Linked DNA regions of Homo sapiens: region 1 is reported to be linked to region 2. The links are microRNA targets in miRTarBase. Many come from high-throughput screens and were not tested one by one. Region 2 holds a microRNA gene; the other region holds the end of a gene's coding sequence.

Region 1 (4,664 bases), not on the chromosome of region 2:
CTGGGGAGCGAGCCAGGGGATGGTGGGGGCTGGACCGGAGCAAGTAGAAGGGGGTGATGATAACGTGAACGCACCCCTCCCCAGGGCTACCTCCCCCAACATTGCCTCCCTCCTCTCTCTTGCTCTCCAGAGGAGCTGAGCCTGAGTGGACTCTGCCAGTGCCTGGTGGAACTGTCCACCCAGCCGGCCACTGTGTGTCATGGCTCTGCAACCACCAGGGAGGCAGCCCGTGGTGAGGCTGCCCGCCGTGCCCTGCAGTACCTCAAGATCATGGCAGGCAGCAAGTGAAGCCCCAGCTGGACTCATGGATGTGCACCCTTTGCTCCCTGCTCTTTCTGCCTCTGGGCTCATGTATCTGCGCAGCTCTGGTACCCTCTGTGGGTGCCATCTCTACCTCTGACACAGACTGCCTGCCTTGAAGCTGAGAAGGCACAGGGCAAGGAGCCAAGGACCACAGAGCCTCAGCCAGCCCAGGATCCGTCCTCATTTTATTGGTGATGATGAATGGGAATGAAATCAGGGGGCTGTCTACTAGAGCCTGGAATAAATATGCTGCTTTGTGGATTTTTAAGCCCTTCTCTTCTGTTTCCTTGAGCAGTGTGGATAGCAGAGGAGGTCACCACATTACTTTTGTGTGCCTTCCCTGAGCTCCTGTTCCAGCCATTCTCCTGTTTTCCTTTCTGGTGGGAGGAGGCTGGGCACAGTGGCCTCGTGGAATGTTGTCGGCTGCCTTGCTGGAGGGCTGGGTTTGGTGGAGGGGAAGGGCAGTGGTTCTTGCCCTTGGGCTTCCACCCAGCCCTGTAAAGTCTCACACAGACACACATGGATTCAGAAGCCAGACAATTTTATTTGGGGGGCAAACATTGACACTTTTGGGTGTGGACCTTGCATGCAGACATATCAAGGGATGACATGTCACTTCTTCCCAAAGCGTTGAGGGGCAGCCAGGCTCCAGAACTGGGAATTCAGCCCCTCTCCAGCCCGGGGACTCAGCCATTCATTCCTCCAGGATCCCTGGGTATTTCTGCCAAACCTTAGGAAAGATTTGTCCTCAGGTCCCCGCAGTCTCCCTTCTCTAGCCCCCTTCCTTCTCCTCTTCCTCTGCCTCCTGCCCTTTCCACCCCCAGCCCCTGCCATGCTTGTGTCCCTTTCAGACTCACCTCTGGGGCTGAAACAGGAAGGCTTGGCTCCGGCCAGGTCTCTCCATTGCCTGGAGCAGGTAGTGCAACAGTGACCCAGAGGTCTGGGCATCCTGTGGTGGGAGGGGTTCGCTGTCTTCCTCCTGTGCCAAGGGGGTATCAGGGAAGGAAGATGGGCAAATACCCTGGACACGTAAGTCACAAGGGGAAGGGACTGGCTTCCAGGGGCAAGTGGTAGGAGGCTGCGGAACCATTTCCTCAGATGTGAGGACCTAATGACAACCTTGGCAGCCAGAGAAAGTATCAGAACCTAGAGCACAAGTCTCAACCGAAGTAGAGGCAATGGTGATATGGGGATGGGACACACACTCACCGCGGAGAGCTGGTCTTCCTGCTGGCCTCCTGGCCCTTCAGCACAGCCCCCGTCTATTAACAGCAGCAGCACCAGCAGTGCAGCAGCCTGCCTAGAATCCATGCTGCCACCTACCCTCCTACAGCCACCCCAACCTCTTATACCTGCTGTTCCCCCACCCCCAGCCTCACAGTAGCCTTAGGGGAATCTAGAGCAGGCAAATGGAAATGCAGGGCTCATTAGGAGCCACCTGGGATCTCCTCCCATGGCGCCCCCAGGACTTCATGCTCTCAGCCTCCTGCCCCCGGCCCCTAAGCCTGGAGTTACAGACTTTATTAGATGCATAAATCCTGTCTCCAGAGCTCAAGAAGCATCATTAGTTGCAGACGCTTTGTCAGAGCCAGGCCCTGGGGAGCCTTAGACGAACCCCTAATCCCTCAACAGGTTGGAGAGCTTGTTTATCACTTCCCCTCTTTCCTAACCTGTAGACTAAAGCACAAGAAACTCATGTCAGGAGGGGTTAAGTAGGATGTCCTGGAGTGGAAGAGGAGTGGGAAGAGCCAGGGTCAGAGTCTGTGAGGATGACCAGGCCTGGTCCTCTGTGCCTGGGGCTGGCAGTCAGGGCAACACAGCCCATCCTCTGCTTGTGTGCCTCTTGGAGGCTACTCAGATTTGCCTGTGGATAGAAAAAATATATTCAACTTCATGATGATGGAGAGAATTTAACTTTTTTTCTTTTTGAGATGGAGTTTCGCTCTTTTTGCCCAGGCTGGAGTGCAGTGGCGCGATCTCGGCTCACTGCAACCTCTGGCTCCTGGGTTCAAGTGATTCTCCTGCCTCAGCCTCCCAAGTAGCTGGGACTACAGGCGTCAACCACCATGCCCAGCCTGTATCTTTTTTTTTTTTAATTAAAAACCATTTTTTTTTTGGCCGGGTGCAGTGCCTCACACCTGTAACCCCAGCACTTTGGGAGACCAAGGCGGGTGGATCACCTGAGGGCAGGAGTTCGAGACCAGCCTGGCCAACATGGTGAAACCCTGTCTACTAAAAATACGAAAATTAGCTGGGCGTGGTGGTAGGCACCTGTAATCCCAGCTACTCAGGAGGCTGAGGCAGGAGAATCGCTTGAATCGGGGAGGCAGAGGTTGCAGTGAGCTGAGATGGCACCACTACACTCCAGCCTTGGCAAAAAGAGAAACTCTGTCTCAAAAAAAAAAAATTATTAAGATATAGAGGGAGGCTACAGGATTTTGGAGCCCACTGAATGAGTGTGGCTTCCAATCTTTGCAGACAGACCCCCATCCTCACTAGAGAGCACTGCTTCCGACCTGCCTCATCGCCCTTCCTATAGTCACTCTCCACAGCTGAAGCACTGCTGCCACCCTGTGGTCACAGCTCCTCATTGCCAGCTCCGGCCATTTCCTTTTCCTAGAATAGACCTCTGCAGAGGAAGTGAGGAGGGTGAGGCTGAGTGGAGGTGCTAGGGTCCAGTCTCCAGGGAGTCCCAGAAGGACAGGAGCAGGCTACTGTGGGGCTGGACTATCATTCTGACCCCGACTCTGGTCTCCACAGCCTCTGCCTGGCCCTGGCTCTCATATAGAGTAGCCTAGAATCCTGTCTTAAGAAAAATCAGAATCACTAATCCTCAGGGAGAGGCCTTCAAAGCCATATGGTGCAGGTTCCTTCTAATCCTCGAGTCCCTTTTGGAGCATCCCCACCAGTGTGGGTCTCTAGCTTGTGCTGAGGAAGAGCCATGACGTAAAGGCCTTGGCCTCTGCTTGAGCAAGCTGTCTCCCGCTCTGAGCTTCAGTTTCCTCACCTGAAACATGGGCCCATTTTACAAGGAACGCCTTCCTAGGGTGTGCATTACTTAACATACTTTTTGTAATCCATTCAATAAAACAGCTTGCATAGAACAGGTATCCTCAAAACGTTAGCTGTGATTGCCTCATGTGCCCCAGTCGGGGAACTTACCATCTCCTCAGACAGTCTTCGGACATATTTATCCTTGTGCCGAGGGGGCTTTGGGCTTCCTGTGACTTCTACTCGGGGTCTTAGTTTGCTCCATTAAGTCTCAACAGAACATCTCATCTCTTTCATGTGTAAAAGCTCTTCATATTTTTGAAGAGAGAGTTCATTCTTACACTCCAGCTTTTTTTTTTTTTTTTTTACGATGGAGTCTGGCTCTGTCACCCAGGCTGGAGTGCAGTGGTGCGATCTCGGCTCACCGCAACCCCTCTGCCTCCCGGGTTCAGGCGATTCTCCTGCCTCAGCCTCCCAAGTAGCTGGGATTACAGGCACACACCACTATGCCCGGCTAATTTTTGTATTTTTAGTAGAGATGGGGTTTCACCATGTTGGCCAGGCTGGTCTTGAACTCCTGACCTCAAGCAATCCACCCACCTTGGCATCCCAAAGTGTTGGGATTACAGGCGTGAGCCACCGCACCTGGCCCACTCCATAGTCTTTTTTGCTCAAGGGGAAGCACCCCACTCTTTAAGGCAAGGCATCTAGGAACCAACTTATCCTTTAGACACGTAGATTAGAGCAGGTTTGGATCTGGATGCTCCAGATACCATATTTCTGTTAATGCGGACTAAGCCAGGGTAAACCTTTTCGTAAGCTTTGTCTCATGGTTGGTCCCAACCACAAAACCTGACATTCATCATCATGGTATCTTGTAGTTTTATCTTTTTTTTTTTTTTGAGACGGAGTTTTGCTCTTGTTGCCCAGGCTGGAGTGCAATGGCTTGATCTCGGCTCACCACAACATCTGCCTCCCAGGTTCAAGTGATTCTCCTGCCTCAACCTCCCGAGTAGCTGGGATTACAGGCATGCACCACCGCGCCTGGCTAGTTTTGTATTTTTAGTAGAGATGGGGTTTCTCCATGTTGGTCAGGCTGGTCTTGAACTCCCGACCTCAGGTGATCCGCCCGCCTGGGACTCCCAAAGTTTTGGGATTACAGGCATGAGCCATTGCACCCGGCCAGTTTACCACTTCTTAAAAGGGAGTATCAAGGCCACGGGGAGATGGCTTTTCTGTGGGCAGTAGCTGCTGCATCCCAGAATGATCCTTGTCTGCTCCTGTGTGACAGAGGTCCAGAGGAGCAGCGGTGTGAGGGTGGATGGGACACTGCAGAGCTGGTTCTGGGCCAGACAGAACTCAGTTGTAAT
Region 2 (5,533 bases):
GGGCAGCAAATAAAGGTTGGCCCGGCAGTCTCGGCCACGGTAGCCATAGCTGGAGCCACCCAGGGGCTGGTTAAGGAATGTGTTTTGTTGTTGTTGTTTGTTTGTTTTGTTTTTATTTATTTATTTATTTTTAATTTTTTTATTTATTTATTTTTTTGAGATGGAGTCTCACTCTGTCGCCCAGGCTGGAGTGCAGTGGCGTGATCTCAGCTCACTGCAAGCTCCGCCTCCTGGGTTCATGCCATTCTCCTGCCTCAGCCTCCTGAGTAGCTGGGACTACAGGCGCCCGCCACCATGCCCGGCTTATTTTTTGTATTTTTAGTAGAGACGGGGTATCACCATGTTAGCCAGGATGGTCTCGATCTCCTGACCTTGTGATCCACCCGCCTCGCCCTCCCAAAGTGCTGGGAGCCACGGCACCCAGCCTATTTATTTTTTCTTTTTTTTGAGACGCAGTCTCGCTCTGTCTCCAGGCAGCAGTGCAGTGGTGCAATCTCAGCTCACTGCAACCTCCGACTCCCTGGTTCAAACGATTCCCCTGCCTCAGCCTCCTGAGTATCTGGGATTACAGACACACGCCACCACACCCAGCTAATTTTTGTATTTTTAATAGAGATGGGATTTCACCATGTTGGCCAGGATGGTCTCAATCTCCTGACCTCATGATCCGCCCGCCTCAGCCTCCCAAAGTGCTGGGATTACAGGCGTGAGCCACCACGCGCGGCCTGTTTTGTTTTTTTAAGACAGAGTCTGTCACCCAGGCTGGAGTGCAGTGGCATGATCCCAGCTCACTGCAACCTCCGCCTCCTGGGTTCAAGCCATTTTCCTGTCTCAGCCTCCCAAGTAGCTGGGACTACAGGCAGATGCCATCATGCCAGGCTAATTTTTGTATTTTTAGTAGAGATGGGGTTTCACCATATTGGTCAGGGTGGTCTCCAACTCCTGACCTCAGGTGATCCACCCACCTTGGTCTCCCAAAGTGCTGGGATTAGAGGTTTGAGCCGCTGGCGCCCAGCCGAGGAATGTATTTTGCATCACACACACTGGCTGAGGACCAGACTCAACAAGGTCATTGGAATGAGGTTTTTCTGTTTCCACTCTCACCCCTGTAGTGGGCTGATGGTCCCCTCCCACTCCAAAAAAAAATGAATGTCTGTTTCCTTTTTTTTTTTTTTTTTTTTTTTTTTGAGATGGAGTTTCGCTCTTGTTGCCCAGGCTGGAGTGCAATGGTGTGATCTCAGCTCACGGCAACCTCCACCTCCCGGGTTCAAGGGATTCTTCTGCCTCAGCCTCCTGAGTAGCTGGGATTATAGGCATGCGCCACCATGCCTGGCTAATTTTGTATTTTTAGTAGAGAAAGGGTTTCTCCATGTTGGTCACGCTGGTCTTGAACTCCCAACCTCAGGTGATCTGCCCACCTCGGCCTCCCAAAGTGCTGGGATTATAGGCATGAGCCACCGCGCCCGGGCTATGTCTGTTTCTTAATCCCCACAACTTGCAAATGTGACCTTACAAGGAAAATGGGTCTTTGCAGATATAATTATAGATCTCAAGATGAGATCATCCTGGATTATCAGAGTAGCCCCTAAATCCGATCACAAGTGTCCTTATAAATGACAGAAGAGGCAGCCTCAATCTCCTGGGCTTAAGTGATCCTCCTGCCTCCGCTTCCCAAATAGCTGAGACTACAGGCATGCACCACCATGCCCAGCAAATTTTTTGTATATTTTTGGTAAAGATGCAGTCTCGCCATGCTGCCCAGGCTGGTCTCAAATTCCTGGGCTAAAGCAGTCCACTTGTCTTGGCCTCCTAAAGTGCTGGGATTACAGGCATGAGCCAATGCACCCAGCCTGCCTGGCTAATTAAAAAGAAATTTTCTGTAGAGATGGGATCTCGCTTTGTTGCCCAAGCTGATAGTTATCTGGTTTATTTGTTAACTGCTCATATTCCCCAATAAGACTGTGAGTTCCATGGTGGCTGAGATTGGGCTGTTTTTTTTGTTTGTTTGTTTTGTTTTTTTCATTTCTGTATCTCCTCCTCCAGGAAGCCCTCCATGACTCCAGGCTGGGTCAGCCCTGTCCCTGTGGATTCCCCATCCCAGTCTTGCACACTCTGGGTTGTCACTCTCAATGAGTCTGTTCCCATGCTAGACTGTATGCCCCAGGAGGGCAGGCAGATGCTGTCATGGTCAGCACTGGGTCCCCAGCCCTATGTCTCAGATGTTCAGAAAATATCTTGAATGGGCCAAGCACGGTGGCTCACGCCTGTAATCTCAGCACTTTGGGAGGCCGAGGCAGGTGGATCACTTGAGGTCAGGAGTCCAAGACCAGCCTGGCCAACATGGCGAAACCCTGTCTCTACTAAAAAACACACAAAAAAATTAGCCAGGCATGGTGGCCCATGCCACCCAGCTACTGTAGTGGCCGAGGCAGAAGAATGGCTTGAACCCAGGAGGTGGAGGTTGCAGTGAGCCAAGATCGTGCCACTGCACTCTAGCCTGGGTGTCTCAAAAACAAGAAAATATCTGAATGATTGTCAATATACATATATCCTGACCCCATGAAACTGCTCTGACCTGCAGTCACTGCAAAGGGGAGCAATCTGAGGTCCTCACTTTTGCAGTCTCAGCCACCTCTCATCAGATGCTTATCAAGCCCTACTGGCAGGACATTTGGGACAGATTCCAGGGGATATTTCCAGCTGCCTCGAGAAGGCTCTGGGCACCCAGAAGGCCAGGCCATTTCACCAACCACCCTGGCTCCTCCAAAGAGGAAACCAAGGCCCAGAGAGAAGCAGACAAGGACCGGGTTCCTGGGGTGTGGACTCCAAGCTCAATAGGATTTTAGGAAAAAGTTTGGGTCCCAGAATCAGGATTGTTGTCTCCTACCTATAACCTCAGTTTCCTTATCTGGAAAGGAGGTATAATAATTTCCAAACTGTAGGCCTCAGAGCTCTTGGAGGCCACTAGTTGTAAAAAAATAAATTCATACCTGGAATAACTTACAACAGTGTCTGTCAGATAGTAAGTGCTTGAGTTATTATTTTGGATTTTTTTTTTTTTTTTTTTTTTTTTGAGAAAGGAGTCTCGCTCTGTCGCCCAGGCTGGAGTGCAATAGCACAATCATGGCTCACTGCAACCTCGACCTCCCAGGCTCAAGTGATGCTCCCACCTCAGCCTCCAGAGTAGCTGGGAACCACAGGAGCATGCCACCATGGCTGGCTATTTTTTTTTTCTTTTTCTTTTCTTTTTTTTTTTTTTTTTTTTTTTTTTGAGACGGAGTTTCACTCTTGTGGCCCAGGCCGGAAAGCAGTGGGGCAATCTCGGCTCACTGCAGCCTCTGCCTCCTGGGTTCAAGCGATTCTCCTGTCTCAGTCTCCCGAGTAGCTAGGTTTACAGGCACATGCCACCACACTCGGCTAATTTTTGTATTTTTAGTAGAGACAGGATTTCATCATATTGGTCAGGCTGGTCTCAAACTCCTGACCTCAGGTGATCTGCCCACCTCGGCCTCCCAAAGTGCTCAGATTACAGGCATGAGCCACCGCGCCCGGCCTGCTATTTTATTTCCTGTAAAGACGAGGTCTTGCTATGTTGCTCAGGCTGGTTTCAAACTCCTGGGTTCAAGTGATCCACCCACCTCGGCCTCCCAATGTGCTGAGTTAGTGTTTTATCAGTCCCTGTGCATGGGGCACATACTATGAGCTCAGTACCTTTACACATTATTTCACAGGTCTATGGACCTGAGATCATAAAATTCATTTTTCAGAGTCAAGACGACTTTTCCAGGGTCACACGGCCAGGTACGGGCTGGACTGGGGTTTGAACCCATCTCTGTCAGACTCCAGAGCCCGGGCTTCCAGCCATTCCCAACTCTTTTTGCTCAAATGCACCAATCCCACTCTGGCCACATAGCCCTTGAACGTGCTGTGCTTGTTTTGTGTGTTGCCCAGGCAGGTCTCAAACTCTTGGCCTCAAACGATCCTCCCAAAGTGCTGAGATTACAGGCCTGAGCTGCCTTGACCGCCTTTCTATTTCCTCCTGGGGGGATGGGAGCACCAAGGAGATTCCAGCAAAAGGATACACCCACTCCAGCTTGAGCCGGCAAGAAGGCAGCTCCGAGCGTGTGTCCAGGCTGTAGGTGGGTGCCAGCTCGTCTGGGATCATCATGGGCACAGGGCGGCCCCTCAGGAACATTTTCACGGAGCCATCCTCTGCCAGGACACCCCCAGAGGTCAGGCACTGACACCAGCCCCATCCCTATTCCCTCTCCTCTTCCAGCTTTATTTATTTATTTTTTTAAAGGCAGGGAAACTGAGGCCAGAGAGGCAAAGACCCAGTAGCCAAGACTCCTGACCTCTGGCTCCAGCCTGTCACCCCAACAAGCAAGCTTCCACCGAGCCCTTCCCCATCTCCCCACTCACCCACACTGAAGATAACTTCTTTGGTTTTGCTGTCAGGAAAGGACAAAGAAAAAAAAAGGGTCTTAGTATTCAGTTCAGAAAAGGGGAGAAACCATTCCTCCACCCCCACCGCTCCCCGGAGGTCTCCGATGAAAACGGGGCCGAGTAAGGGGCAGAGCGCTGCCTCTCTGCAGGCCGTGTGCTTTGCTCGGTTGATCTTGCAGAGCCTAAGACACAGGCCCAGAGAGGCAGTGATCGCCAAAGATCACACAGCACGAAGTGGCAGGGACGCGATCCTGGAAGAAGGGAGTCACCAAGGACCCTTCCCTCCTAATCAGCAAGGTGCTCCCCAGCGCCCCCCACCCGCAGTTCCCCCAGCACACCAAACGTCAAGCAGAGGGAGAAACGGGGAGAGTTTAAGGGAAGGGGCGTGTCCCCACGCCGGTCTGGGTCCCAGGGGTTGGGTGAAACCTGAGATCTAAGCCCCGGGAGCGCGGAGAGGAGATGGGGGGTGGTCTGCGAAAGGGTCTCACCCAGCTCCAAAGCTACTCATGGCGGCGGGTGGCGGAGCTTCGGGGCCGGGGGTGGAGCCGGGACCGGCTCTGCCGCTTCCGGCCCTGGGAGGCGCCCGGGCCGCCGCGCCCCTGCCCCGCCCTCCACAGCCACCCCTGGAGCCGGAGGGTCCCACCGGGTCACACATCCCGGGCTGTGGACTCCCGATCCCAGGTTCTTTCGGGGTGGGTGGGGGAGAGTGGTTGAGAACATGGACTCGGGAGCGCGCCTGCTTGAGTTAAAACCCCAGTTCTGCTAATTCCTAGCAGTGTACACAGGTCGTCCAACCTCTGCCTCGGTTTCCTCATTTAAAAAATGGGGATAATAAGAGTACCCGGCCGGGCGCGGTGGCTCATGCCTGTAATCCCAGCACTTTGGGAGGCCGAGGCGGGCAGATCACCTGAGGTCAGGAGTTCAAGACCAGCCTGGCCAACGTGGTGAAACCCCGTCTCTACTAAAAATACAAAACTTAGCCTGGCGTGGTGGCTGGCGCCTGTAATCCCAGCTACTTGGGAGGCTGAGGCAGGAAAATCATTCGAACTCGGGAGGCAGAGGTTACAGTGAGCTGAGATTGTGTCAT

What was found. The annotated mature microRNA hsa-miR-330-3p reads GCAAAGCACACGGCCUGCAGAGA and lies in region 2 at 4,587-4,609, opposite strand. An mRNA with a match to its seed (bases 2 to 7 or 8) in the 3' UTR can be bound and repressed. Matches are read on the target gene's strand: a 7mer-m8 pairs with bases 2 to 8, a 7mer-A1 pairs with bases 2 to 7 and ends in A, and an 8mer does both.
Region 1: miRTarBase lists TARBP2 as a target of hsa-miR-330-3p. Seed matches in the 3' UTR shown: 7mer-m8 at 554-560.

The regions. Positions count from the first base shown.
Region 1 is chr12:53,505,861-53,510,524 of GRCh38, forward strand. It overlaps TARBP2 (TARBP2 subunit of RISC loading complex), which reads left to right. Exons shown (of 9, transcript NM_134323.2): 9 at 131-571. The coding sequence ends at 288. It overlaps ATF7-NPFF (ATF7-NPFF readthrough), which reads right to left. Exons shown (of 15, transcript NR_159377.1): 13 at 1,974-2,167; 14 at 1,161-1,282; 15 at 828-1,033. NPFF (neuropeptide FF-amide peptide precursor) reads right to left here and starts at 1,624. Exons shown (of 3, transcript NM_003717.4): 1 at 1,513-1,624; 2 at 1,161-1,282; 3 at 828-1,033. The coding sequence starts at 1,614. The coding sequence ends at 916. It also overlaps a transcript of ATF7 not described here. RefSeq lists an enhancer at 2,745-3,039 and a silencer at 3,177-3,409.
Region 2 is chr19:45,634,423-45,639,955 of GRCh38, forward strand. It overlaps MIR330 (microRNA 330), which reads right to left and starts at 4,665; the gene lies at 4,572-4,665. EML2 (EMAP like 2) reads right to left here and starts at 4,975. Exons shown (of 19, transcript NM_012155.4): 1 at 4,935-4,975; 2 at 4,423-4,451; 3 at 4,083-4,212; 4 at 1-49. The coding sequence starts at 4,954. RefSeq lists enhancers at 3,801-4,652, 3,889-4,183, 4,653-5,504 and silencers at 3,889-4,183, 4,880-5,159, 5,180-5,269.